Linked DNA regions of Homo sapiens. The protein of the gene in region 1 purifies or fractionates together with the protein of each later gene. This does not show direct contact. Each region holds a gene or a part of one and is shown in the gene's direction. Other genes may lie near its edges.

Evidence for each region.
Region 2: the proteins of HOMER1 (region 1) and TRPC5 purify together in Homo sapiens (affinity purification with western blotting, with the first as the bait; one study listed by BioGRID). This does not show direct contact.
Region 3: the proteins of HOMER1 (region 1) and TRPC1 purify together in Homo sapiens (affinity purification with western blotting, with the first as the bait; one study listed by BioGRID). This does not show direct contact.
Region 4: the proteins of HOMER1 (region 1) and PRPSAP1 purify together in Homo sapiens (affinity purification with mass spectrometry; one large-scale study listed by BioGRID and IntAct). This does not show direct contact.
Region 5: the proteins of HOMER1 (region 1) and CDC42EP4 purify together in Homo sapiens (affinity purification with mass spectrometry; one large-scale study listed by BioGRID and IntAct). This does not show direct contact.
Region 6: the proteins of HOMER1 (region 1) and PALS1 purify together in Homo sapiens (co-immunoprecipitation; one large-scale study listed by IntAct). This does not show direct contact.
Region 7: the proteins of HOMER1 (region 1) and KIF5C purify together in Homo sapiens (affinity purification with mass spectrometry, with the first as the bait; one large-scale study listed by BioGRID). This does not show direct contact.

Annotation. Positions count from the first base shown.
Region 1 is NC_000005.10:79,399,135-79,402,634, reverse strand, and holds part of HOMER1 (homer protein homolog 1), read left to right. Parts: intron 1-579; coding exon 580-736; intron 737-3,500. UniProt on the Homo sapiens protein: Postsynaptic density scaffolding protein. Binds and cross-links cytoplasmic regions of GRM1, GRM5, ITPR1, DNM3, RYR1, RYR2, SHANK1 and SHANK3.
Region 2 is NC_000023.11:111,767,511-111,771,776, reverse strand, and holds the end of TRPC5 (short transient receptor potential channel 5), read left to right. Parts: 3' UTR 1-3,766; downstream 3,767-4,266. UniProt on the Homo sapiens protein: Forms a receptor-activated non-selective calcium permeant cation channel. Mediates calcium-dependent phosphatidylserine externalization and apoptosis in neurons via its association with PLSCR1.
Region 3 is NC_000003.12:142,783,034-142,786,533, forward strand, and holds part of TRPC1 (short transient receptor potential channel 1), read left to right. Parts: intron 1-1,670; coding exon 1,671-2,007; intron 2,008-3,500. UniProt on the Homo sapiens protein: Forms a receptor-activated non-selective calcium permeant cation channel. Forms a heteromeric ion channel with TRPC4 or TRPC5 that has reduced calcium permeability compared to the homomeric TRPC4 or TRPC5 channel.
Region 4 is NC_000017.11:76,329,917-76,333,416, reverse strand, and holds part of PRPSAP1 (phosphoribosyl pyrophosphate synthase-associated protein 1), read left to right. Parts: intron 1-981; coding exon 982-1,154; intron 1,155-2,750; coding exon 2,751-2,866; intron 2,867-3,318; coding exon 3,319-3,374; intron 3,375-3,500. UniProt on the Homo sapiens protein: Seems to play a negative regulatory role in 5-phosphoribose 1-diphosphate synthesis.
Region 5 is NC_000017.11:73,305,502-73,309,001, reverse strand, and holds part of CDC42EP4 (cdc42 effector protein 4), read left to right. Parts: intron 1-3,500. UniProt on the Homo sapiens protein: Probably involved in the organization of the actin cytoskeleton. May act downstream of CDC42 to induce actin filament assembly leading to cell shape changes. Induces pseudopodia formation, when overexpressed in fibroblasts.
Region 6 is NC_000014.9:67,303,935-67,307,434, forward strand, and holds part of PALS1 (protein PALS1), read left to right. Parts: intron 1-3,500. UniProt on the Homo sapiens protein: Plays a role in tight junction biogenesis and in the establishment of cell polarity in epithelial cells.
Region 7 is NC_000002.12:148,881,727-148,885,226, forward strand, and holds part of KIF5C (kinesin heavy chain), read left to right. Parts: intron 1-3,500. UniProt on the Homo sapiens protein: Microtubule-associated force-producing protein that may play a role in organelle transport. Has ATPase activity. Involved in synaptic transmission. Mediates dendritic trafficking of mRNAs.

The DNA of each region.
Region 1 (3,500 bases):
AGATAACTGTATCTGTCATAATGAAGGTTGGAAACATTCCACGTTAAGCCTGGTACTTGAGTACTTTTTATATTTCTTCACTTGCCAGGTTTTCTTTACTAGGAATATTTTGGTAAAGTATTTGTGTTTTTTAGTATTTTGAGGTTGTCTTTGAAAACATTCTTAGGGCTGGTCACAGTGGCTCACGCCTGTAATCCCAGTACTTTGGGAGGCTGAGGCAGGTGGATCACCTGAGGTCAGGAGTTCAAGACCAGCCTGGCCAACATGGGAAACCCCGTCTGTACTAAAAAAATACAAAAAAATTAACTGGGCATGGTGGCGTGTGCCTGTAGTCCCAGCTACTCAGGAGGCTGGGGCAGGAGAATCGCTTGAACCCAGGAGGCGGAGGTTGCAGTGAGCCAAGATTGCGCCACTACACTCCAGCCTGGGCAACAGAGCGAGACTCCATCTCAAAAAAAAAAAAAAAGAAAAGAAAACATTCTTAGACTATAAACCCTACAATAGAACTGAGTCTTGCTGTCCCTTCAAGGTAACAGTAGTTGGTGTAATGGATAGAATTTTCTTTTTGTTTTATTTTAGTTCAGCAATCAGCAAACATTGGGAGGCTGAACTGGCTACCCTCAAAGGAAATAATGCCAAACTCACTGCAGCCCTGCTGGAGTCCACTGCCAATGTGAAACAATGGAAACAGCAACTTGCTGCCTATCAAGAGGAAGCAGAACGTCTGCACAAGCGGGTAATTTCAGGGCTGATGTCTATAGGGATTTAGGGCTAACAGGTTTTCTTGATCAGAAGAAATTTGCATGTAGATTCAGCACAGGGATATCTTCTAGTTCTAGGATGTCAGAACATAGATATGGGTTGTATGATATGCATTTGTTTGATTAAGAAAAATATTTTCCATAGTTTAATGAGAATGAAGAATATACGCCTTTTGAAGTCAACAAACCATGTTGATTCCCCATATTATCCATGGGGACTAGCAGTAATGCACAAGTACATAAAAGCACTAATGTATTAGTGCTAGTTGATTAGTACTGACATGGTAGTTAAAGTGTGTGCTGAGAAAAAATTCAGGGAGTAGTTTAATTAGAATTTTAGCTTTGGGTGTTGACGGTGAAGCGGGAATGCTTTTCTCCTGAGTTGTCCTGGGGAGGGGATTCTCCATTTCTGGTTTACAAGACCAGAGTATTCCAGAGTGCGAATTCCAGTTCTGCCGGTTATTATCTGTATGATCTTTGATAAGTTATTTCCTTCTTCCAGCTCAGTATTCTCATCTGTAAAATAGGAATAATAAGTACTCTGTACAATTCCTGTGAAGATTAATTGAATACTTAATTGGCATGTAGTTGCACTGAGTCAAAAGTATGTATTCTGTACAATTCCTATGAAAATTTGTTGAGACACTTAAGTGCCGTGTAATTGCACTGTCTCAATGAGTTGCAGTGAGTCAATGAGCTGCTTTTATTATTTTCTTTTTAAAGAAGGAACAATTTGAAAAATACAAGTAGAAAATTATTAACTTTGGTAATATTAGAGATTTGGTGCAGAAAAAGAAAACCAGAAATTTCAATACCATTAATATCAGAAGCCCAGATAATTACTTGTAAAGTGTTTTAATGCTCTCAGGCCAAGAGTTTGAGATTAGCCCAGGCAACATGGCAAGACCCCATCTCCATTAAAAAAAAAAAAAAAAAAAATCTTTTTTCTTTTTTTTTTTTAATTAACCAAGCATGGGGACACACGCCTGTAGTCCTAGCTACTTGGAATGCTGAGTGGGAAGGATTGCTTGAGCCCAGGAATTGGAGGCTGCAGTGAATTATGATGGCTCTACTGCACTCTAGCTTGGGTGACAGAGCAAGACTCTGTCTCTAAAAAACAAAAAAAAAAAAGAAGAAGTTTTTTTTTTTTTAATTCAAGGCATAGAAGTGCTTCACCCAACAGATGCCTTTAATTTCTCCTTTTAAAAAAAATTCCAAGCTGGGCACATTGGCTCACACCTATAATCCCAGCACTTTGGGAGGCTAAGGAGGATGGATTGCTTGAGCCCAGGAGTTCAAGACCAGCCTGGGCAACATGGTGAAACCCCATCTCCACTAAAAATACAAAAATTAGATGGGTGTGATGGCATGTCCCTATAGTTCCAACTACTTAGGAGGCTGAGGTGGGAACATCACTTGAGCCCAGGAGGCAGAGGCTAAAGTGAGCTGAGATCACGCCACTGCATACTCCAGCTTGGGTAACAGAGCAAGGCCTTATCTCAGAAAAAAAAAAAAAAAGAAAGAAAAGGAAATGCAGTTGAGACAGAGTGGAAATGTTAGAAACTTGAGTAAATGTTATTCTATCCTGTGTGTAAAAATTAACTTAAGAGAGGTGGGGGAAAGGAGAGTTGTTTAATGGGTATAGACTTACAGTTTTGCAAGTTAAAAAAGTTCTGGAGATCTGTTTCACAGCAATGTGAATATAAATACTTAACACTATTGAACTATACACTTAAAATGACTAAGATGATAAATTTTATGATATATGTTTTTTACCACAAAAAAAAATTTATGACAATTGTCATAGCCAGAAAATATTAAGGAGCTATCATGTCTCCTTATTGTGTAATCTCTGCCCTTAAGAAATTTTCTCTTTAAATAGTCAATTGAATATTAAAGAACTTAAGAAACATAATATATTTATTTACTCACATATTTTCAGTTTCCATTGTGCTTCTTTCCTGTAGATCTGAATTTCTATCAGGTATTGTTTCCCTTCAGCCTGAATAACCTCCTTGAGCAGTTTTTGTACTCCAAGTGTACTGCCAACAAATTATCTCCACTTTTATTTAGATAAATTTTGTCTTGATTATAAGTTACATTTTACTGTTTTTTCAGAAAAATGACTAGTCATTTTTAATTTTGTATTGGACATTGCAAATGAGATGTTGTAGAGACCACAGATTTTGTTATTTTTGAATAATGTTGAGTTTTTGTTTCAACAGGCAGTTATTTGGAGATTATCTTGAATTTGTGGAGTTGTGTACTTATGCTTTGTTAGAATTCATGTATTTCAATTTTGCTGTAACCCTAGGGTAAATCACATTGTCCTAGGAAATCTTTATCTCTAAGACATAACCCTTTCCAAAGTTTCACTGCAAAGCTTGAGGTATTTACCAAGGCCCTCTAATTTAGCAGGGACTAGCAGAACTTCAAACTGTCATCTCTGTTGAGCACCATCGCAGTTTAGTTCTTTCAGCCTTCCAGCTCTTTTCCTACTCCTAGTTGTGCCAGGTGTTCTGCAGAGTCCTAAAATTCTCAGGCTTCTCAGAGAAATAAGACTATGGATTTCTGCTTGTTCAGTCAAGCAATGCAGCCAGACTGCAGAGTACCTTCAGGCAAAAAGATGTGGAAATCACCCAAAGTGACTGCTTTCTTGCAGTCTTTTGCCCAATTTGGTTACTCACCAGGTCCTTCAAACAGTTGACTTTTACATTTTGCCCACAATTTGCAATTGTT
Region 2 (4,266 bases), on another chromosome or scaffold:
AAAGCATTTAGGTCAGAATAACTTACCTGGAAGACTTAAATATACACATTTTTGGCAAAATAAAGTCAGTCTGCATACTTCAGATTTACTGTATACCTGAGATTTGGTGCATACTTGAGGTGTTAATATTCATTCATATGCTGGTACGTGGCCTAGGATTTTCATCTTTTGTGTGGTGATCCAGAGGAGGTGTTAGTGGGTGCTTTGTGAGAGCTTTACTTTTAGAAAATGTAATGTTTAAGAAACAGAGTTAACTGCTGGAATGATAGAGGCAGCAAGCCAGTGTGCTCTAGCATCTTTAGGCTCAGTATTTGTGTTATCCCCAACTTGAGTGGATTTGTATCTTGTACTTGATTACTGGATCTGAGTTGTGTTCATTCTTTTTCTAAAGATATACCATCAATGTTTGTGGTACCTGAGAGACATATACATATTAAGAATTATAATATTTAAACATAAAACTAAGTGGAATGCCCTTATGCCAAAAAGCTAGTTTTCTTATATGATGTGAAAAGATGTGAAAGCTCTAGAGGCTTCCTGTTACTACACAAATAAATGACAAACAATTTCTGTAGGAACATAAACAGCCCACAACTTTTGATCATTGAAATCAACTGTCATACATCCCTGAAAGTAGCATGTATCTGTCCTACCCTCCTCCCCCTCAAAGAACTTTCTTTATAACTCCAGTGACTTGATAGAACCAAAAAAGACTAACTGAAGTAGGTTAGAATGACTTGCAACGTGAAGGTCATTTTCACCATTTTTCAGCATATTTGCCCTTTGACTTTAGCAGGTTTTGGGGCAACCTAACATCCCAGGAGCTTACATACATACACACAAAAGGCACTGTCCTTAGTGGCACTTGAATGAATATGTGGCAGTGTGCCTTTTATTTAAGCCTAAGGTAGCCAGCCATTTGAAAGTACAATTAAGCTGGGATTGGCCATTTTGTATCTTTTCCCAGAAGTTCAATATATCCCCAAAATACTCATTGCCACCAATTGCCTTCCAACCTAGGAACCCTCTTGACAGTTCTCCGCTCTTACACAACTCTTAAAGCTGACCCTTGGAAGGAAGAAAGGAGGCTTTGGATTTTTGCTGGGATTGGGAAACTTAGATGGTGATAGTGTAGTAAAGAGACAGTTGGAAAAGCTTTTGAAGTAAGGATGAGTGAGGATATACACTTTAAAACACGGGGCTAAACCACCAAATTGTCAGTTTTTTGGATGGCCAAATTGAGATGAATAACCTGAATTAAAAATATAATTTAAAATGGTTAATTAAAACATTAGCATCATCATTTCTCCTTTAATGAAATTCAAAAAATGCAACAATATATGAAAGCAGAACTACCGGTAAATCATTTTTCAAATTTTGGGTCATATTTGGGTTAAATTTCAGATGTTAACAAGTTCTCAACCTTGGGATCACTGTAAATATAAGTTCAACACACCACACCCATAATGCAATATCACAGATGGGCTTTCATAAATATGTACACTTTAGCCAATTGGAAAGATCACTTCCTTCAAATTTTATCTAAGAAATAAAGTGGGTTTGTCAAAACAACATGAAAGAGAAATGAAAGGTAAGGAAGGGCACTATGGCAAAAAGCCAGATTATGTATCTGCTGTCATCTTTTAGCCTCATAAATTTGGAATAAACATAAAATAGGATAATGACTGATATTTTCATAAACATACCAGAACTTATGCACCCAAATGAACGTGGTCCTTTAAAGTAGTCACCTTAAAAAGCCATACCCATATTCTAATGATGCTGCCATTACTCTACCCACTTTGGACTTCTGCTTTTGAAATGACTTTCAAAGTCCACAGTACAATCTCTGAATATCCTCAATGGTAGAAAATCATGATCCTATAAGATTAAATTTTTAGGAATTTAGAAATTGCCAAAAGTAATTTTAGATCCACACTTGGTAAAACATGTGGTAGTCAAGATGAGTACCACTTTCTCTGGTTAAAAACAAACAAACGAACAAACAAAAAACATTTTCAAGTGCTACTACACAATAGGCACTTTGATAGGTGCAATTATAAAATAATGAGATTGTCTCTTGTGGGATTTGTAAGGGACCTGGAACTGTTCTTGGGAATCTAGTTTTTTTCCCCTAATTAACTTTATTGAGGAATGATTTATGTACAATTACCTGCATTCATTTAAAGTGTACAAATTGGTGAGTTTTCAGAGTTGTATATACCCCTGGAAGCACCAGCCAAAATCAAGTTATAGAATATCTCCATCACCCCCTCAAGAATGCTTGTTCTCCTTTGTATCCTGGAATCTAGTTTCAATTATGCTTGGAGCAGTGGTAGCCTTACATGAATAAGCACATAGCCTCCTGAAGAGAACACTTTAAAGAGCAATATATTTAGATAGAGAAGCTTCACTGATTTGGGAACAACCATAATGATTAACCCTTTGTGTTTAAACAGTAAAATACATTGAGTTCCAATGGCTTATGCTGTAAATAAACTCAGAATTGACTCCTCAAACTTATTTGATCCTTAAGAAATGACATTGTATAGCACAGAGGCTCTGGTGACTAGGCTGTTATCAGGGAGAGGGACAGTAAAGAAAAACCACTAACCTCCATAGAGAACAGAGGGGAGGATTTTGGACTCATAAGAACCCACGGTGGCAGAAGCAATGGAAAGAAACTCTAATAGGAAGATGGCAGCTAGCTAGCTGAATGTGTTCAGGTCATTTGAAAGTCACATATTCAGATTAAGTATTTCCTGTATAAGATCTAGTCATGGTATTTAAAGTATAGCCTCATCATGTTGTGGCCACACCTTGTAGGACCTCCTTGTAAAACATATTAAGCAATCAGTTTAAATATCCAAGGCAAAGTAACCTGTAGTCCAATAAATCAGTGATAACTGTGCTTAGTGTACGTGGGCAGGAGAAGCAGCCAGAATTCTCAAGTGTCTTAACAGGATAAGTGGGACCAATGACACCAAAATGAATATTATGTGAGCACATGAAGAGTCCTCTAAACCCAAAGGGTTAACACATTAGTCTGTGGTTTAATGTAAAAGGAAATTCAATTCGATAAATTAACTTTAAAATTAAGTGTTCAAATTACTACCTTAACAAAGTAAAAGTAAAGCTGTATCTTATCTCAACAGTAAAGACACAGACCTTCCCCAGGACACTTCAGATAAGGATAAACACATCCTTCTCAAGCAAATACATTTTAGTTTGTTTCTTATAATAGGAATGCACACCAGAGGTACTATTCAACAGAACAATAGTTAAACTCTTCACAGGATTCTATTTATTCCATATTTCTCAAAAATGGGGTTGAAATTAGGGATGGGAGTTTCTTTCTACTCAAAACAATGAATGCAGTCTGCAGCTACAAACTAACATTTGGTAGCAGGAAGGAGAATACTAGAGAATACGAGCTATGTGTAATTCACCTTCTAAGCCTAGTTGGCAGCCCCAACCACATATCACCATATAGAAAGTGTGTCAAATTTCAGTTTAAAATGATACATCTTGAGCATAATCATGAAAAGGGAAAATTCCAAATGTGTCTGTGTAAATGACACTGGCTTTGAAGACTATTTTCAAAGTGGAAATCTCTTTGAATAACTATCACTTTTATTTAAACACTTTCTGTAAGTGCACAGTGTCAATCTTAATGTATTAAAAAGAATCTTGTACAATAAAATAATTTTGTGTATTTTTAGCTTCAGTATCAACAAAATAAAGTATTTACTTTTTTCCCCTGAAATGTGTGACAACTCAGATTTTAAGGTGTTATGTTCCTCCCTTTTTCAGTGTAATCATTCGTAGCCACCTATTATTAACATTTATGAACAAAAGACTTCACAATGTAATTTGCCTAGCAGAAACACTAATGGGAGACCTCCACAGTCCAATATATTTTGAAAAGTATATGAGAATAAATATTCTGATTTTTATATCTTCCATTAAACAAAGCTGACTAGTATTTAAGAATTTAATAATAATTTATAAGAACTATGAGATGAAGTAAAGAGACCAATACAGTTTTAAAGCTATAGCTTACAACATTGAAAAACCTTAGAGGCCCAATCCTGGAAATTAATTATTCTTCATTGAGTACTTAAAAGTATGATACATATTGCATAGAACAGTTGGAATCTGTGAGACAGTGAGAAGACATATAAATGGAGGTTAAGCTGGTCATGATTAAACCAGTGTCATCTGAGGACATCTGAGCAATAATTCCAGAATCAGTTGACGTTTCTC
Region 3 (3,500 bases), on another chromosome or scaffold:
TGTTGAATTGAAGAGTAGGAAATTTTGACTTCCTCCTTCCCCACCTCTTGATGATGGGAAGAAAGCGTGTCCATCTTTCACTGCAGACTTAGAACATTTCTAGTTAAACTTTTTATTCCAAATACATAGTTAACATTACTGCAAATTAAATTGTCATTGTATAGAGGGATAGCAAGGACAGTAATCAGTCCTGAGATTGCTTTGATATTTGGAGGAAAGGTGACACTACTAAATTTGAGATTTACTAAACCTGGTCATTGGTGAGAGGAAAAGCTGTTTCTCTCCCAGGCATTTCACCTTGAGGGACAAATTAAGATTTCCCAAGAACATTGGAATCTGAGCAGAAGAGTAAAGAATGAAGTATTGCCAAAAATAAGTATTTGCATATAACATACACACATCTTCCCATATACTTTAAAGTATCTTTCAATTACTTATAACACCTAATACAGTGCCTACACATCATTTCATTCATGTGGATTCAACATAGTACTTGCTGTGAAGAATATTCAAGTTTTGCTTATTTGGAACTTTGTGAATTTTTTCTTCCAAATATTGTTGATCCATGGTTGGTTTAATCCACAGATGTAGGACACAGAGATACAGAGGGCCAACTCTACAGTATACTAGAAATTTTCTTGAAAGCACAATAAACAACAAAACTCTGTCCAATTCTTTTTTTCACTACAGTGTTAATTCTACAAATTATATTCTGTTTTGGGATAAATCATTTTAAAACAGAAGGTTGACCAAATATTATTGTGGATTACCTGAATAATGTCATTTTATAATAATTTCAAACCTGATCACATGAGTATATATAGAATTATCAGGACCCTTAAGTTATACTTCACAACATGAGCATTATATTGGAAAAATATTGCCTATGAAATTTGTCAACTAAGAAGATTTGTAAACTTTGGTAAATTAGTTTCTGTACCTGAACTAAAATTTTTCTCATATTTGGGAATATTTTTCCTTTCTTCTCACATGAAATTCAGTTTTAATCAGGCTTAAGAGTGTCTTTAATACCTTTTAAGAAATCCGCAGTGCTTTCTTGGAGCAAGAATAGGTCTAATATTTAGCTTTTTATTGTTTTTGCTATCTTGACTTCTTGGCTTCTGGTAACTAAAATCAATAGTTTCTCTAGACTGAAGATGTCCAACATTAGTTAGTGGTATCTTTTTCTATGGATTGTGCATGATAACTTTGAAATTTCATAAATATTATTATGAGTTTTTATATATTAAACATGAAAAAATGGCTAAGTAAGCTAATAATAATAGTTAATACTTATAGAGTGCATGCTATGAACCAGGCGCTATTCTGAGGGCTTTACCTTTAATCTTCACAACTTTATTAGTAGATACTATTATTATTCCCATTTTACAGATGGGGAAGTTGAGGCTTAGAGAAATTTAAAAACTTGTTAAAGGTCATTTACCAAGTAGCAGAGCCCAGATTTGAATCTAGGTAATCTGGCTCCATAGTCTATCCTCTTAACCTCTACATGCTTTTATTGTTAGAAAAAGGGAAAAAACAAAACTATGTTGAATGTATAGAATTGATTTTTAAACTCTTATTCAGTAAACTTTGAATATCAACCAATCAGTATTTAAAGGTTTCCTTTTACTTTTTTTCTTTTTAATGTGTGTGTATGTCCTTTTCAGTTTGTCTCCCAGTCTAACTGCCAGCAGTTCCTGAACACTGTTTGGTTTGGACAGATGTCGGGTTACCGACGCAAGCCCACCTGTAAGAAGATAATGACTGTTTTGACAGTAGGCATCTTTTGGCCAGTTTTGTCACTTTGTTATTTGATAGCTCCCAAATCTCAGTTTGGCAGAATCATTCACACACCTTTTATGAAATTTATCATTCATGGAGCATCATATTTCACATTTCTGCTGTTGCTTAATCTATACTCTCTTGTCTACAATGAGGATAAGAAAAACACAATGGGGCCAGCCCTTGAAAGAATAGACTATCTTCTTATTCTGTGGATTATTGGTAAGTATCAAGTTAGTTTGAAAGGTTTTGTCTTTATTTAGCCCACTGATTCTTTCTTGATTGATGGCATTGTGAATATTGGGTTCAATTTGCAATTTTACACTGTTCACACCACAAGAATTTGAACACTTCCATGATCACTGAAGACTTAACTAACATGTCTGTAAAGATAAATGTTCCTGAACTTGATGATAAGGAAGCATCTCTCTTATTTAATATTTCTTAAATACATGGAATTTTAAAATTATTTATTCTCAGACTCTATGGTTATTCATGATTGTAAAACAGAAAATCAGCTTTAACACATGAATGCTTTTTTGGTGTAAGAATATGAAGTTTTCTTAGGTATTTTGAAACAATCTATTTTATACTGTTGTGCATTTTTAAAGTTAACTATTCTATTTCATTTATAACATTAGTTTTCCTTTTAAGAACCTATGAGCTTTTTGGTTTTTGTTTTGTTTTGTTTTGTTTTGTTTGAGACAGAGTCTCGCTCTGTCGCCCAGGCTGGAGTGCAATGGCACAGTCTTGGCTTACTGCAACCTCCGCCTCCCGGGTTCAAACGATTCTCCTGCCTTAGCCTCCCAGTAGCTGGGATTACAGGTGCGTGCCACCACACCTGGCTAATTTTTGTATTTTTAGTAGAGATGGGGTTTCACTTCATTGGCCAGGCTGGTCTCGAACTCCTGACTTCGTAATCCTCCTGCCTCAGCCTCCCAAAGTGCTGGGATTATAGGCCTGAGCCACCGTGCCCGGCCTAGAACCTATGAACTTTTGCAGATATATCTTGCTTTATCTCTATTTTGGAAACATTGTTTAAATTTAGATTTAAAGGAGTCCCTGGTGACTCATTCCATAAATCATTTCTTTGTAGAGATAGCCAGATCTCTTTAGAAATGATAGTTTTTTAAAAAGTATAAGACATTTTATTCCTGAAAATTATTTTTATAAGTATTACACTGTATAATAAATGTCTTAAATCATCTTCTACAATTTTTACTCGTCTTGCCTTCTGTGTGTCGGGGTGCGTGTGGAGAGTTGAGGTAGAATCACATTATCTGTTTATGGTATTTTAAAGATATTTTCTTTATTTCCCTCTGTATCTTCTACCTTGTTTTTAACCTCAGCACTTCCCATCTGTCCGTCTACTATTTGCTATAGAGTAAAAGGGTAATAAAATTTAGTCTTATCTATGGCACAAAGTACTGAGTGTATTTATCTTTTGATTACTACATTCCTGATTGTTTCAATTATTTAGTACTTTCATAAGTTATTTCACAATGTTCAATTTTAGCTCTTTAGCTATACAAATACTTTTTATATTTTAGAATGTTTATTTGAAAATCAGTTAATTTCAGGTAACTAGATTGTAATTAGAGTTTTGCTTTTAACAGTATTTAATCTATGATGCATTAATGTTTAAAATTAGGTAGATAAAATAATACACATCTAAACTCTAGGTTAAAGAGAATTAAATAATTCCTTCTTGTTAA
Region 4 (3,500 bases), on another chromosome or scaffold:
AAGTTCCAGCTGGGTATAGTGGGTCATGCCTGTAATCCCAGCACTTTGGGAGGCCGAGGTGGGCGGATCACCTAAGGTCGGGAGTTCGAGACCAGCCTGACCAACATGGAGAAACCCCGTTTCTACTAAAAATACAAAATTAGCCACGTGTGGTGGTGCACGCCTATAATCCCAGTTACTCGGGAGGATGAGCCAGGAGAATTGCCTGAACCTGGGAGGCGGAGGTTGCAGTGAACTGAGATCACACCACTGCAGTCCAGCCTGGGCGACAGAGTGAGACTTCATCTCAAAAGGTCAGGAGATGAAGACCATCCTGGCTAACATGGTGAAACCCCGTCTCTACTAAAAATACAAAAAATTAGCCGGGCGAGGTGGCGGGCGCCTGTAGTCCCAGCTACTCGGGAGGCTGAGGCAGGAGAATGGCGTGAACCTCGGGGGGCGGAGCCTGCAGTGAGCTGAGATCGCGCCACTGCACTCCAACCTGGGCGACAGCGAGACTCCGTCTCAAAAAAAAAAAAAAAAAATTATATTCCAAGACCTCCCCACACTCAATGGAAAGAGACCAAATCTTTCTGTTAATGGCAGCTAAATGGAAGGGCAGTTGGGTTTCCCTTGGCATTCAAGCTGGCCTAAGCCCAAATCCCTGGGAGGCTGCCAGCAGGTGTTGGGTAACTCTGGTCACCAGCAGTTGCTTCAGATGTCACTGCAGTAACGGGGTATGACACAGGAGACCCAGGCAAATGTGAGGGTGGGTTAACTGTGCTGTGAATAGGAGTAACCTCAGATGAAAGCTAGGGCTTACTCAGCTACAAAAAGTCAGAAAGCTTCCCCTGCCTTCATGAGGTGCCATTGTAAGCTAGTGTGATGGTAAAATTCCCACAACACCCATCTGGGCAGCCCATGTTAAGTTGATAAAGTCAAGATCTTTTCTAGGGTTGATACATGGAATTAATCCCCAAATACAAACTTTGACTGTTTCAGAGATGTGAATACAGCTGTGATGGAGTTGCTCATCATGGCTTACGCACTGAAGACTGCCTGTGCCAGGAACATTATTGGGGTCATCCCCTACTTCCCCTACAGCAAGCAGAGCAAGATGAGGAAGAGGGGTTCCATTGTGTGCAAGCTGCTAGCATCCATGCTGGCGAAAGCAGGTGAGTGTGCGCGGGGGCCCTGGGGTTCCAGCATGATCCTTTAGGGCTCTTTCCTAGTTGGACTTAGCTCATACCTCAGATATCCAATCTGGGATCTGAGTGTTTGTTTCCTTTTGAACAGTTTTGGCTAAGGATATGTGAGCTCGGTTAGAAATTCTTTTTTTTCCCTTATTCGCTTTGTCCTACTTTAGAATACCATTGCTTTAGTGTCTTCTCTTCTCTGTCATCTGTCACATATTTTCTATTTCATCTTGTCATCGCTAAATTCTTAGCTGGCAGTCTTGGCATTCTTATGTGATCTTTTGATCTTCAGGTCTAGATTTCTATATCTGCTTTGTTAGCTAAATTCCATTTTTGTTCATAGTATTCAAGCTGGATTTTCTTTTACTCCCTCTCCCCCACCCTTGCCTTTCTACATAGTGGCTCATTTTCATTGCTTTATTCTCCTTGTGTGGCGGGGGCACGCTTTCTGGCCTGTAAATCAATGTAATATTTTACAATTGGGTTTCTATTCATCTGATGTCTGTTCTAAAACTTTAACGTATATTTGGGTCCTCGGAAAGAAATGTATGGTCCTCCCTCAATGTCCTTATAGGATTGGTTCCAGGAACCCATCTCCCGCTTCCCCGGCTCCTCAGCAGATACAAAAACCCAAAGATACTCAAGTCTTCCATATAAAATGCCATAGTATTTGCATATAACCAACACAGTCATCTGTAGATTATTTATAAATACCTAATACCATATAAACACTATATAAATTGTTGTTATGCTGTCTTGTTTAGGGAATAATGATGAGAAAAAAGTTTCATACCTGCTCAGTACAGACACAACCATTGTAGGCCTAACTACCTTTTCAGTCTGTGTTTCGTTGAATCCACACGTGGAACCCATAGATCCAGATGGTCAACTGTATGTGAATTTCATCCTCTCCAAAAAACTATAGTGTTTCTGGAAAGAACAAGTAATACTGGTTCTACACCCTGGAAGTTTTGCTGTGACCTTTGACCATTTGCAATGTGTTTATATATATGTACCTTTTCCTCTTCAGTACTCTTGATTATAAGAGTATCTCTTCATTGTTTTTCTATAAGAATACTTGAAACATTCTTTGTTACATACAGAAATTATTCTAAGCTTCAATATCTTTGTGTTATATGAGTTTCTTTTCTTCTAATATGTATATTACTTTGCGTTTGTGTTCTTGCTACTTTTTGCCTTCGCTACAGTTCTTTATCCTTTCTTTTAAGATTCTGTAATCAAGGCCTTACTGTTTTTTCCATCTCTTCGGTATTAATTCCATATTCATATTTTTGCTTCTGCCACATTATTCTTTTCTCAATTTTCTGGACCAAGCCAAAAGTCAATAATTCCCACTTTCTTAGCTTTAGTTCTTTGTCCATGTGGAAGGTTGTAGCCTTCTCTACATTAAGGCTTTATTAAGGTTAACAATCAAGCCTGTGACTGCAGTGCTTAATCACAGTACCCCGTCTTCAGTCTGCTGGTAGGAAGCAGGAGTTGAGCATCTAGTTTAGGTCCACTGTAGCCATTTACCTGTAGGGGTGAACTTTGTAATTTTTTGTTTTAAAATTTCAGGTTTAACTCACATTATCACTATGGATCTTCATCAAAAGGAAATACAAGGCTTTTTCAGCTTTCCTGTGGACAACCTTAGAGCCTCACCTTTCCTGCTTCAGTATATCCAGGAAGAAGTGAGGAACCACCAGCAAACACCCCATTGTCCTCAAAAGAGATCTTATTTAGTTTTTCTCTGGTATCAGATTTCGTTACTGGAAGGCACATCAAATGAGCTCTCCCTTAAGTCACAATGCCTGAGGCAGCAGACAGGGTCAGCTTTAGTCGTGGACGATCATAGCTTTAAAAGACACTAAAAACAGATTTTTTTTCTACGTATCTTTAGCAATTTGCTTATGTTTTCTAAAATGAATGTTTTAAGAATTATTTTTAAAAAATTCTTGACGTAGGAGTGCTTTTTCCAGTGATGTTAATTGATAAATATTGAAAAATCTAAAACTTGTGACTAAAATTCTAGCATATTTGATGACTAGTTTGGATCATTATAAGAGGGAAAACTTGAATACCAGCATCCAGGTGTTATTTTCTGATAACTTTTCAGTATTTTCTATTTTTCCTTCAAATCTAGATTCCAAATTACAGAAATGCAGTCATTGTAGCTAAGTCTCCTGATGCTGCAAAGAGGTAAGTAAGCTAGACATGGGTCCTGATCCCTCCTGAGTGCTCCCGAAGTCAGAATGAGCTGCTTTGGAATCCAGAGGCTGTCACTCGTGGCCTTTGAAAGCCCACTGGCTCTCATGTTAACCCCTC
Region 5 (3,500 bases), on another chromosome or scaffold:
CAGTGGCACAATCTTGGCTCACTGCATCCTCCACCTCCCGGGTTCAAGCAATTCTCCTGCCTCAGCCTCTGCAGTAGCTGGGATTATAGGTGCATGCCACCACGCCCGGCTAATTTTTTTTTGTATTTTAGTAGAAACAGGGTTTCACTGTGTTGCCCAGGCCGGTCGCGAACTCCTGAACTCAGGCAATCCACCCACCTCGGCCTCCCCAAGAGCCGGGATTACAGGCGTAAACCACTGCACCCAGCCCTGGCCAACCCTTCTTAACAAGTCCAGAGCTTTTCCAGAAGGGCCTTGGGTTGGCAGTGGCCCAGGGCTTCCACCCCTTTGGAGTGACTGATTGATTTCTGCGGCCCGGACTGTCTGTGCGCAGGTGTGGCCAAAAGGTGTTTGATGTTGGCCTCTCCCTTTCACTCTCCCCCACCCCACGCCCCTACGTTTGGATTGGGTTCGAAGTGAAGAAGTCAGAAGTCAGAGTGGTCAGGGTTGCACTTGGTTAGCAGTAAGTCCAGCCTTCTGTGTTCTCATTCTGGTTCTGCAGACTCAGAGGAGTTTGTCCCTGTGGGGGGAGGGAGGAGTCCGTCCCTTGGAGGAATGGGGAGCTGGGTTGATGCCAGAGATAAGGCCTGTGGGCGGAGGGAGAAGGGTTGAGCAATCTCGCCCTGGAAACAGAGCTGACCTGAGCTCTGCGTAGCTCTTCTGACCTACGTACTGGAGGATTTTTCCCGACCGTGAGGAAAAGAACCAAATTCTGGAGCTGGGGACACTTTGAGGGGTCATCCGGCAGAGTGTCCTGAAGGCCAACTCCAGCCAGTGCTTCTGGGGTGCTCTAGGAAGGCCAAGCCCATGCGTGCCCTCTCTCGGCAGGGAACTGGATGGTAGTGCTGGAAGGAGCCCGCATGTGGCACTGGACACAGCCCTTTTTGCTTGAGTGCGTTGGGAAGGAAATTCAGACATTAGGGCCGGGCACAGTGGCTCACGCCTGTAATCTCAGCACTTGGGGAGGCCAAGGCGGGCAGATCACTTGAGGTCAGGAGTTTGAGATCAGCCTGGCCAATATGGTGAAACCCCGTCTCTACTAAAAATACAAAAATTAGCCGGGCATGGTGGCGTGCACCTATAATCCCAGCTACTGGGGAAGCTGAGACACAAGAATCGCTTGAACCCAAGAGGTGGAGGTTGCTGTACTCCAGCATGGGCGATAGAGTGAGACTCCATCTCAAAAAAAAAAAAAAAAAAAAGAGAGAAATTCAGGGCCAGGCGTGGTGGCTCACACCTGTAATCCCAGCACTTTGGGAGGCCAAGGCGGGTGGATCAGGAGGTCAGGAGATCGAGACCATCCTGACTAACACAGTGAAACCCTGTCTCTACTAAAAAGTACAAAAAATTAGCTAGGCTTGGTGGTGGGCGCCTGTAGTCCCAGCTACTTGGGAGGCTGAGGCAGGAGAATGGTGTGAACCCGGGAGGCGGAGCTTGCAGTGAGCCGAGATCGCGCCACTGCATTCTAGCCTGGGTGACAGAGCGAGACTCCGTCTAAAAAAAAAAAAAAAAAAAGAAAGAAAGAAAAATTCAGACATTAGTCTCCCACATTCCCGCTCACCGTGCCCCGAAAGCTCCAGCTTAAAATACGCCTTCTTGAGGAGACTTGGGCTTCCTTCCAACTAACTTACATTGGAGTCTCCCCCAGGCACTGCCAGCTTGCAGCTCTGGGCTCTGTGCCAGGATGGCAGTGCTGGCATCCAAAGCCCTCCCTTGCCAGGAACAGGGGAACTGGCTGTCTCCACTCAAGCTGAGGAAGGGTCTCTCTTTTGGGATTCAGGTGAGCACAGTTTAGGGTGTGGTCATTAATGAAGGCTTACAGTTCCCCACCTGTAAGAAACTGCTCTGCACACCTGGTGTTTCCCCTTCACCCCAAAGATGGAGCTGAAGGCATCTGGAAAAACCACAGTGCCAGGCAAGAAGGATCCCTGGATGTCTGTGCTCAGCCAGAGCTGCTTCAGCCACCATCTTCTGCCTTGGCCATCACGGTAGCAGAGGTTGTCTGGGGCAGCCTCCACCTCCCAGCATGAGACTCTGGGTTCTTCTTTTGCCCAGACACCTGCAGTTCTGGCAGTCACTGAACTTGGTCTGGAGACCCCAGCTTTGAATCTCTCCAAGTGTGCCAACAAAGCCAGGTTCTGTGTGCTGGCTTCTCTTTCCTGCCTGTCCTTCCTCTCTACCTCGGGTCTTCACTCAGTGCAACCTTCTTATTTCCTTACACTGTTGCCTCCAACCCTGAAGCATCAGAAAGGGACCTGTTCCCCTCAAGTCCTGGAATTGGGCTTAAGGCTTTGTCAAGTGGTACAAGGAGTAGAGAGCCCAAGAGAGCCCAAAAAGAGCCTAGGGGCTCGCAGTACGATTTGTGGTTACCTCTAAGGAGAATCTGGTTAGGTCCAAAAGATCAGATTATATTTTATTGGGGGTTGATCATATTGAAGTTTTGTGCATTATTTTTTTGTTTTGAGACAGGCTTTTTGCTGTGTTGGCCAGGCTGGAGTGCAGTGGTGCAATCACAGCTCACTGCAGCCTCAAACTCCTGGGCTCAAGAGATCCTCCCACCTCAGCCTTGAGTAGCTGAGACTATAGACGTGTGCCGCCATGCCTGGCTAATTTAATTTTTTTTTTTTTTTTTAGAGACAGGGTCTCACTGTGCTGCCCAGGCTGGTCTCAAGCTCCTGGGCTCAAGCGATCCTCCTGCTTCTGCCTCTGCCTCCCAATGTGCTGAGATTTCAGGCATGAGCCACGGTGCCTGGCCTGTGCATTATTTGTTGCTAGTAGCACCCGGGGTCTGGCAAATTCCTGAGTTACTTTTACCCTTATCCTAGGAAGGAATGGAGGAGCTTCTCTTTTCCCACCTCCACCTCACCATCTTGTCTGAGAGAAGCCAGGCTCCTTCTTCTGGCATCATTAAAGGTTAAAAGGTGACGGGATGAGGGAACTCAGATCAGGAAAGAAACCAGATCCGAGGGTTTCCTGCCCCCGACTGCTGGCAGAGACTACAGAGGGAGGGCAGAATCTGTACCTGGGCTTCAGCAGCTTGGGGGACCCTTCCCCCTGCATCAGATAATCCTGGGAACCCCCAGGACTTTGAAAAGGGTCAACCCATTGTCTCAGCCCACGTTTCACTGTACAGACTTTTGAATTAGGTGCTCTCAGGTGGCTGTTCTCTATGAAGTTTGCGAAGTGACAGTGGCTGGAGTGTCACTGGGTGTGACAGCATCATCTTTATAGCACACATGGAACTGTGCTCACCCGAGCACAGCACTTGGGAGTTATGTAATGTTATCAATTGTTCTGAGAGCTAATGAGGAAACTGAGGCACAAATAACTTGACCCACGTGGCAGGCCACCTTGTGACCTAGGGAGTGGGGCTCTTTGTCCCCAACTTCCGGCAGGGCCAAGATGCAAGATTAGCCTGTCTGCTCTGGAGGGAGTTTAGATCTGCCAGTCTCCTGGAGACC
Region 6 (3,500 bases), on another chromosome or scaffold:
TTTTTGTATTTTTGGTAGAGACAGGGTTTTGCCATGTTGGCCAGGCTGATCTTGAACGCCTGGCTTCATGTGATCTGCCTGCCTCGGCCTCCCAAAGTGCTGGGATTACAGGTGTGAGCCTTCACATCCAGCCAACTCTGCACCTTTTTAAAATAAAAAGTAGAAAATAATTTCAGTTTCAGAATTTTTTTTATAGTTATAGGTGGGTTTACTTAACTTAGTATGGAGTAGGGCAAGTGCTTTTTAAAAAGTATGTGTAACCCTTCTTTTAGAGTATATTGTTCTGTTAGACATTTACTCAGCTAGATCTGTTAAAAGTCAGTCTCCATTACCATACAGTCAAGCAATTGCATTCCAAAGTATATATCCAAAAGGACTGAAAACATATATTCACATAAGAATGTCTACATGAATGTTCATAGCAGCAGCATTCACAGTAGCTAGAAAGTAGTAACAACCCAAATGTCTGTCAGGTGATGAATCAAAGACAAAATATGTATGTATGATGGGATATTATTTGATAATTTTAAAAGCCTACAGTACTGATATATGCTACAACATGGATGAACCTTGAAGAAATTATGCTGAGCGAAGGAAGCCAGTCACAAAAGGCCATATATTGGTTCATTTATATAAAATGTCCAGAATAGGTAAATCCATAGGAGAGAAAGCAGATTAGTAATTCCTTAGATGTGGAGATGAGGATTTATGAGGGAATGGTGATTACTAATCAGTACCAAGTTTCTTTTTGAGGGCATAAGTATGTTTTAAAATTGTTTGTGGTGATAATTGTACAAATCTGTGAATAAACTAAAACCATCCAATTGTGTACATGAGTGAATTGTATATGAATTATATATCAATAAAGCTATTTAAAAATGAAACTTTAAAGTGTTGAATTAACATGGAAGCTTGATGTATTGCATCTGTTATTCTTAACTTTAAAGCATAGCAGTTTGAGAAAGAACACAGTTTCATTTTTCTCTCAATATTTCATCACAGGTATGCTTTATAGTTTGGCTATCATTCCATGTTTTCCCTTAATTTTTTACAGAACATACGGAAGTTGATATTGTATCTGCAACCTACTTTATGTTTACAGTTTTTTTGCAGGAAGAGAAATGAGGAAATATAGTTTGTCTTTGAATTTAAACAGCTTGATTCTCTGTGCATTGTGCTGTTCCCTGTATCTCTTCTGTGTATAAGCCCTGAACTTCAAAAGTAGCTCTGCAAACTGAGGAAACATAACAGAGGAGGGTTGGAATATACTCCTACTTACTTATCTACAATAATCCATCCCTCCTGAGTAAATGACTTTTGTCTTTTGAGAATAAATGTCAGAAGTTAAGACATTTTTTTTTTTTGAGGTGGGATCTGGCTCTATTATCCAGGCTGGAGTGCAGTGATGTGATCACGACTCCTGCAGCCTTGACTGCCTGGGCTCAAGCAGTCCTCCTACCTCAGCCTCCCTAGTAGCTGGAAACACAGATGCATACTACCACATCCGGCTAATTTTTTTGTACTTTTGGTAGAGATGGCTTTCACTATGTTGCCCAGGCTAGTCTCGAACTCCTGAGCTCAAGTGGTCCACCCGCCTCGGCCTCCCGAAGTGTTGGGATTACAGACGTGAGCCACAATGCCCAGCCAAGACATGTTTTCTCAACATTTTTTTCCTGCTATTCATGCAGAATCTGGAATTCTGTAAAAGAAAAGCCATTTTTTTCATGGATAGAATTAATCGAAGTGTTACATTGAAACTTGTTGATTCTCGTTGTATGCAAAACAGAATATCAAAGCAATTAACTTACACAGATTGTTTCAACCTAAGAATGAAATAACTTACTTATCCTTTAGTGGTTATTTAACCCCCAACTTTCATTATTGATTAAGAATAAAAGGCTGGTTTAATCTGAAGACCAAAGGAATATAGGTTCATGGTGAACAATCTCTGGAACTACTTAACTGGAAAATGAAGTAGCTTAAAAAGGAAGAAAGTGGGAGAAAGAGCAAAATGCCACATCTATCCCTTTTAAAATGGAGCTTTTTCTGTTCTTTTTACTTGGAGTCTCACTCTTGTCACCGAGGCAAGCAGTGGCACCATCTGGGCTCACTGCAACCTCCGCCTCCCAGAGTCAAGCAGTTCTCCTGCTTCAGCCTCCCTAGTAGCTGAGACTACAAGTGCATGCCACCACATCCAGCTAATTTTTGTATTTTTAGCAGAGATGGGGTTTCACTATGTTGGCCATGCTGGTCTCGAACTCCTGACCTCAGGTGATCTGCCCGCCTTGGCCTCCCAAAGTGCTGGGATTACAGGCATGAGCCACCGAACCCGGCCTATTTTCATATTTAAAGTAGGGATCTTTTCAGAATAGAGTGATGTGCAGTATTTTTCTTTTCCTTCTTTTCTCTTTTGTTTTTTGTTTTTTTTGAGACAGAGTCTTGCTCTGTCGCCCAGGCTGGAGTACAGTGGTGCGATCTTGGCTCACTGTAACCTCTGCCTCCTGTGTTCAAGCATTCTCCTGACTCAGCCTCCCAAGTAGCTGGGATTACAGGCGCCCGCCACCATGCCTGGCTGAATTTGTGTGTGTGTGTGTGTGTGTGTTTGTGTATTTTTAGTAGAGACAGAGTTTCACCATGTTGGCCAGGCTGGTCTTGAACTCCTGACCTCTGATGATCCGCCCACCTTGGCCTCCCAAGTGCTGGGATTACAGGCATGAGCCACCATGCCCAGCCCCTTCTTTTCTCTTTTTATTATGAATAACTCTCAATTGCAATATATCTTGCCAAGTTTTGTCAGACCTAACTGGCTTAAAATGAACTGCTATTATTAAAGCTCATTGAGGCTGTCCAGAAAGGAAACAGTAATAGGAAATCATAATCTTGGTTGACATATGCAGAATAATTATCTATGGAATTAATAATCTAAAGAAATTAGAACCAATTTATTGAGTATCATTATGGTACAGGTCAGCATCTGTTGATAGCAGCAGCAGCAGATATCTTCCTGATTTATGTTTTGTGATGTTAGAAATGTGTTTAAGACAGATATACAAAATAAGTGTTATCTGAAACCCCTATATAATGACTTGTTGAATTATGATGTCATGTATGGCAATAATAAGCTGTGTCAGAAGTGCTCTCTTGAGTTCTTAAATTTCTTTTGTATCACACATAGCAATCAGTGGCTGCTCTTTCAGTAGCAGAGGGCAAGAGTCTTGGCACCTCTGTATTTCACTTCCTGAGTAACTGGCACATTTGATCTAGGAAATGCATACATTATTCAAACGTACAGTTTCCTTCTCTCGGCCTTTTTAAAAAAAGGAAGGATTGGATTTCCCAGACTAGTTTGTAAAACTTTAGATTATTCTATACTATAATAATATGTAGGGAGGGCATAATAGACTTTTATCTGAATGGGACTTTTTCATTTAGTCTAATGCCATAATCTAACAAGGAGTGTATTTAAATGAAGAAGGATCACATCGCTTATTAGTTACAGA
Region 7 (3,500 bases), on another chromosome or scaffold:
TCGTGGTGATTTAGAGGGTGAACTCACTGGAATGGGGATGCTTGCATGTGTAATCTTACTAAGAGCTAATAGAAAGGCTAGGACCAAACCTATTTGTTTATGGGGTGATGTGAGCCCGTCTAAACAGTTTCCCACCTGTGTCTACTTATGTAAAAAAAAGCAAAAACAAATTGCCTACTCCCTAATGGTTTCTCTTGAGTTCAAAAAAATAAAGCCCCTTGACAGATCCAGTCTCACCTTACTTTCTTCCAGGTTTTTTTTCATAAAGTTCTAATTTTGTGGCTGAGAAAGCTCTCCCCATAACCCATTTGCTGCACGTCAACCAAGTTCCTCTTAGTAGGAATTGAGTGGTTGAGTTTGAGGTTGTTTGTAAATATCATGGAGAACTCGGGAGAAAACTATTTTAGATTCACCGTGGCGTCTTCACAGCACCGAACCTGAGGGTGAGTCAGATAGCCAGGATGAACTCTGAGCTCTGAGCTCTGCCACTTCTTATCTGTGAGAACTTGGGCAAATTCCTAAACCACGCTGAGTTCCAGTTTTCTCACCCGTAAAATAGAGATAACAACACTCTCCACTGTCTAGGGCCGTTGTGTGCTAAGCCCAGTGGCTAGTCCACGGCAGGCATCCAGATAAGGCCCAGTAGTGCTTACTTCTCTACACTGTTGTCCGGCTGATTAATCTTGGGAAGGTGCAGACCCTTCAGAGGTTCCCCTGTGCCCTCAGGTTGGAAACCAGATGCTTCAGTAGGGGCATTCCAGGCCCTCCATACTGTGGGCCTGCCTACTCCCTAGCCTTACTCCTCACCCCATATTTCATCTGTGCTTCTGTTCCCCCTCAAGAAGATTAGGCTGCTCAATGCCCATCCCTTTTCCCTCAGCTGCTCACATCAACCCAAATGCCTGGGGAGACTGTCCTCAAAGCTCACCTGCATGGCCTGTGAGCTTTGGAAGGGCATCCATTCGCCTTTAGACTCTCAGCCCACAATACCTCCTCTGACACTTTTTCTGATCAGCCCCTGTCTCCCCATTCTGCCAGCCAGGTGGAATCAGCCCCTTCCCCCTAAGCATCACTGTACTTTGCCCTTCCCCAGTAGAGCATTTCATTTATTTGGTAAATCTGTCCTTTCCTCCAATTAGGCTGAAAACCTTGAGGGCAGGAAATTGTGTCCCATTTATTTCTGTCTCCAAGACCCGGAACAAGGCCTAGAACAGAGTAGTTGCTCAGTATAAGACGTCTTTTGAAAAAAGTGAAAGGGTGCTGACCCTCCTTGGCTGTCAGAGTTTGGGGTTATTTGCTTGGATTGTCACTTTGACCTCTGTCCAGCTCTGGCAATTTGTCTTTCCTCCTTTAGACATCTTTATGGTTTTGTTATTATTCTCTTAAAATAAATAGCTTCTTTTTGTATATGTGGGGGTCCCAATATGTTGCCTGCTCAGTGAAGAAAATTTAGACCATGCAAAAAATCATAAAGAAGGTAAAAATTACATTTTGGCCAGGCGCAGTGGCTCACACCTGTAATCCCAGCACTTTGGGAGGCCGAGGTGGGTGGATCATGAGGTCAGGAGATCGAGACCATCCTGGCTAACATGGTGAAACCCTGTCTCTACTAAAAATACAAAAAATTAGCCAGGCATGGTGGCGGGCACCTGTAGTCCCAGCTACTTGGGAGGCTGAGGCAGGAGAATGGTGTGAACCTGGGAGGTGGAGCTTGCAGTGAGCTGAGATCGTGCCACTGCACTCCAGCCTGGGCGAAAGAACGAGACTCTGTCTCAAAAAAAAAAAATTACATTTAATTTTACTAACCAGAAAACACGATAATTAACATTTTATTGTATATTCTAGTTCTTTTCTATTCTTACAACACACTTTGTTTTAAAACAAAGATATTTTATAAAATCTATTTTAAAACTGTTTTACTTAATAGTATAGTATACTAAACTAAATGCTGATGTCTGAAGTCTAATGTACTATACTTTTTCAGCATTCTAAAAGTTGCATATAATTTCATTATATGCCTAATCAATACTTTATTTCCTACTGATGGACCTTTGTTTTTCTGTTGGTTTTTTTTTCCTATTATAAACAAAGGCATGATATAAACAGTAGTCCACATACCTCCTTGTGGACTTGCCCAATTATTTTGTTAGAATACATTCCTAGAATTGAGATTACTGGGTAAAAGGATATACGAGATGATTTTAAGACACCCACCACAGTTTTTGAGAGGGAGCAATTTAGAAATAGCAAATTGTCTTCTGTTTTATAGTCTCACTTCTCTGCTCACCCCATGGAACTGCTGCCAGTTTGTCTCATAAAGCATCCCTTCATATTCGAGCTAAATTAAATTCTTACTGAGGGTATGTGCTTCGTCATGCACTGTTAACCCCCAGATCCGGAACATGGCAATGCCTTCAGACTTTTAATGTAAACCATAGGATTTTGTAGGCTGTCTTTTGTCAGTTTCAATATCCTAAAGGATGTTGTTTGTTGGAGGTGATCAAAAGCTAAATCTCTCTCTGGAGGCAGACAGAGACAGAGGCCAAGACTGTAGTCTTAGAGAAAAATAGGATGGATATACCCTTTCTTCTTGGTGCTCACATTGAATGGCCTGTGATATCTTCTGGGCAATGGTAAGCTGAGAAAGGAAAAAAACAGCCCCCTCAGAGAAGCCTTAGACAGGACTGCTTTTTCTCTCCCCCCTTGATTCCTAGACTCTTTTAGAAAATTTATTATATAAAATTTCAAACATACACCAAAGTAGAAAGAATAAAAAAAGTACTTATCAACCAGTTTTAACCATGATCAGCAAATGGCCAATCTTATTTTTTGTATACTCTCCTAACCTTTCTCTCCAACCTCACTAGATTGCTTTAAAGCGAAATCTTAACATCTCATATCTTTTGATCCACAAACTTCAATATGTATCTCTTTAATTTTAACATAACCACAATAACACTATCACACATAAAATATTAACAGTAATTCCTTACTATCAAATACCCAGGCAGTTCTACTTTTCTTCTTGCAGTTGGTTTGTTCAAATCAGAAGGCTAGGTACTGTTCATTTCCAGCAAGGAGAAAGAAATGCTCATACATGTTGACCTTGAAACAAGAGGAGCCTTTTGCCATGATAGACTTGTCTAGTGTAGAGTCAGGTGTGGTGGTAGAAGCACACACGGGGCCATCAGGGCTAAGCAAGATTCCCAGCCTATCCCCCCCTCACAATGGCCATGTCCTAATTGTTTTTTTTTTTTTTTTTGAGACGGATTCTCACTCTGTCTCCCAGGCTGGAGTGCAATGGCACGATCTTGGCTCACTGCAACCTCCGCCTCCACTCACTGCAACCTCCGCCTCCCAGGTTCAAGCAATTCTCAGCCTCCCTAGTAGCTGGGATTACAGGCGCGTGCCATCATGCTTGACTAATTTTTTGTATTTTAGTAGAGACGGGGTTTCACCATGTTGCCCAGGCTGGATTCAAACTCCTGAGCTCGAGCAAT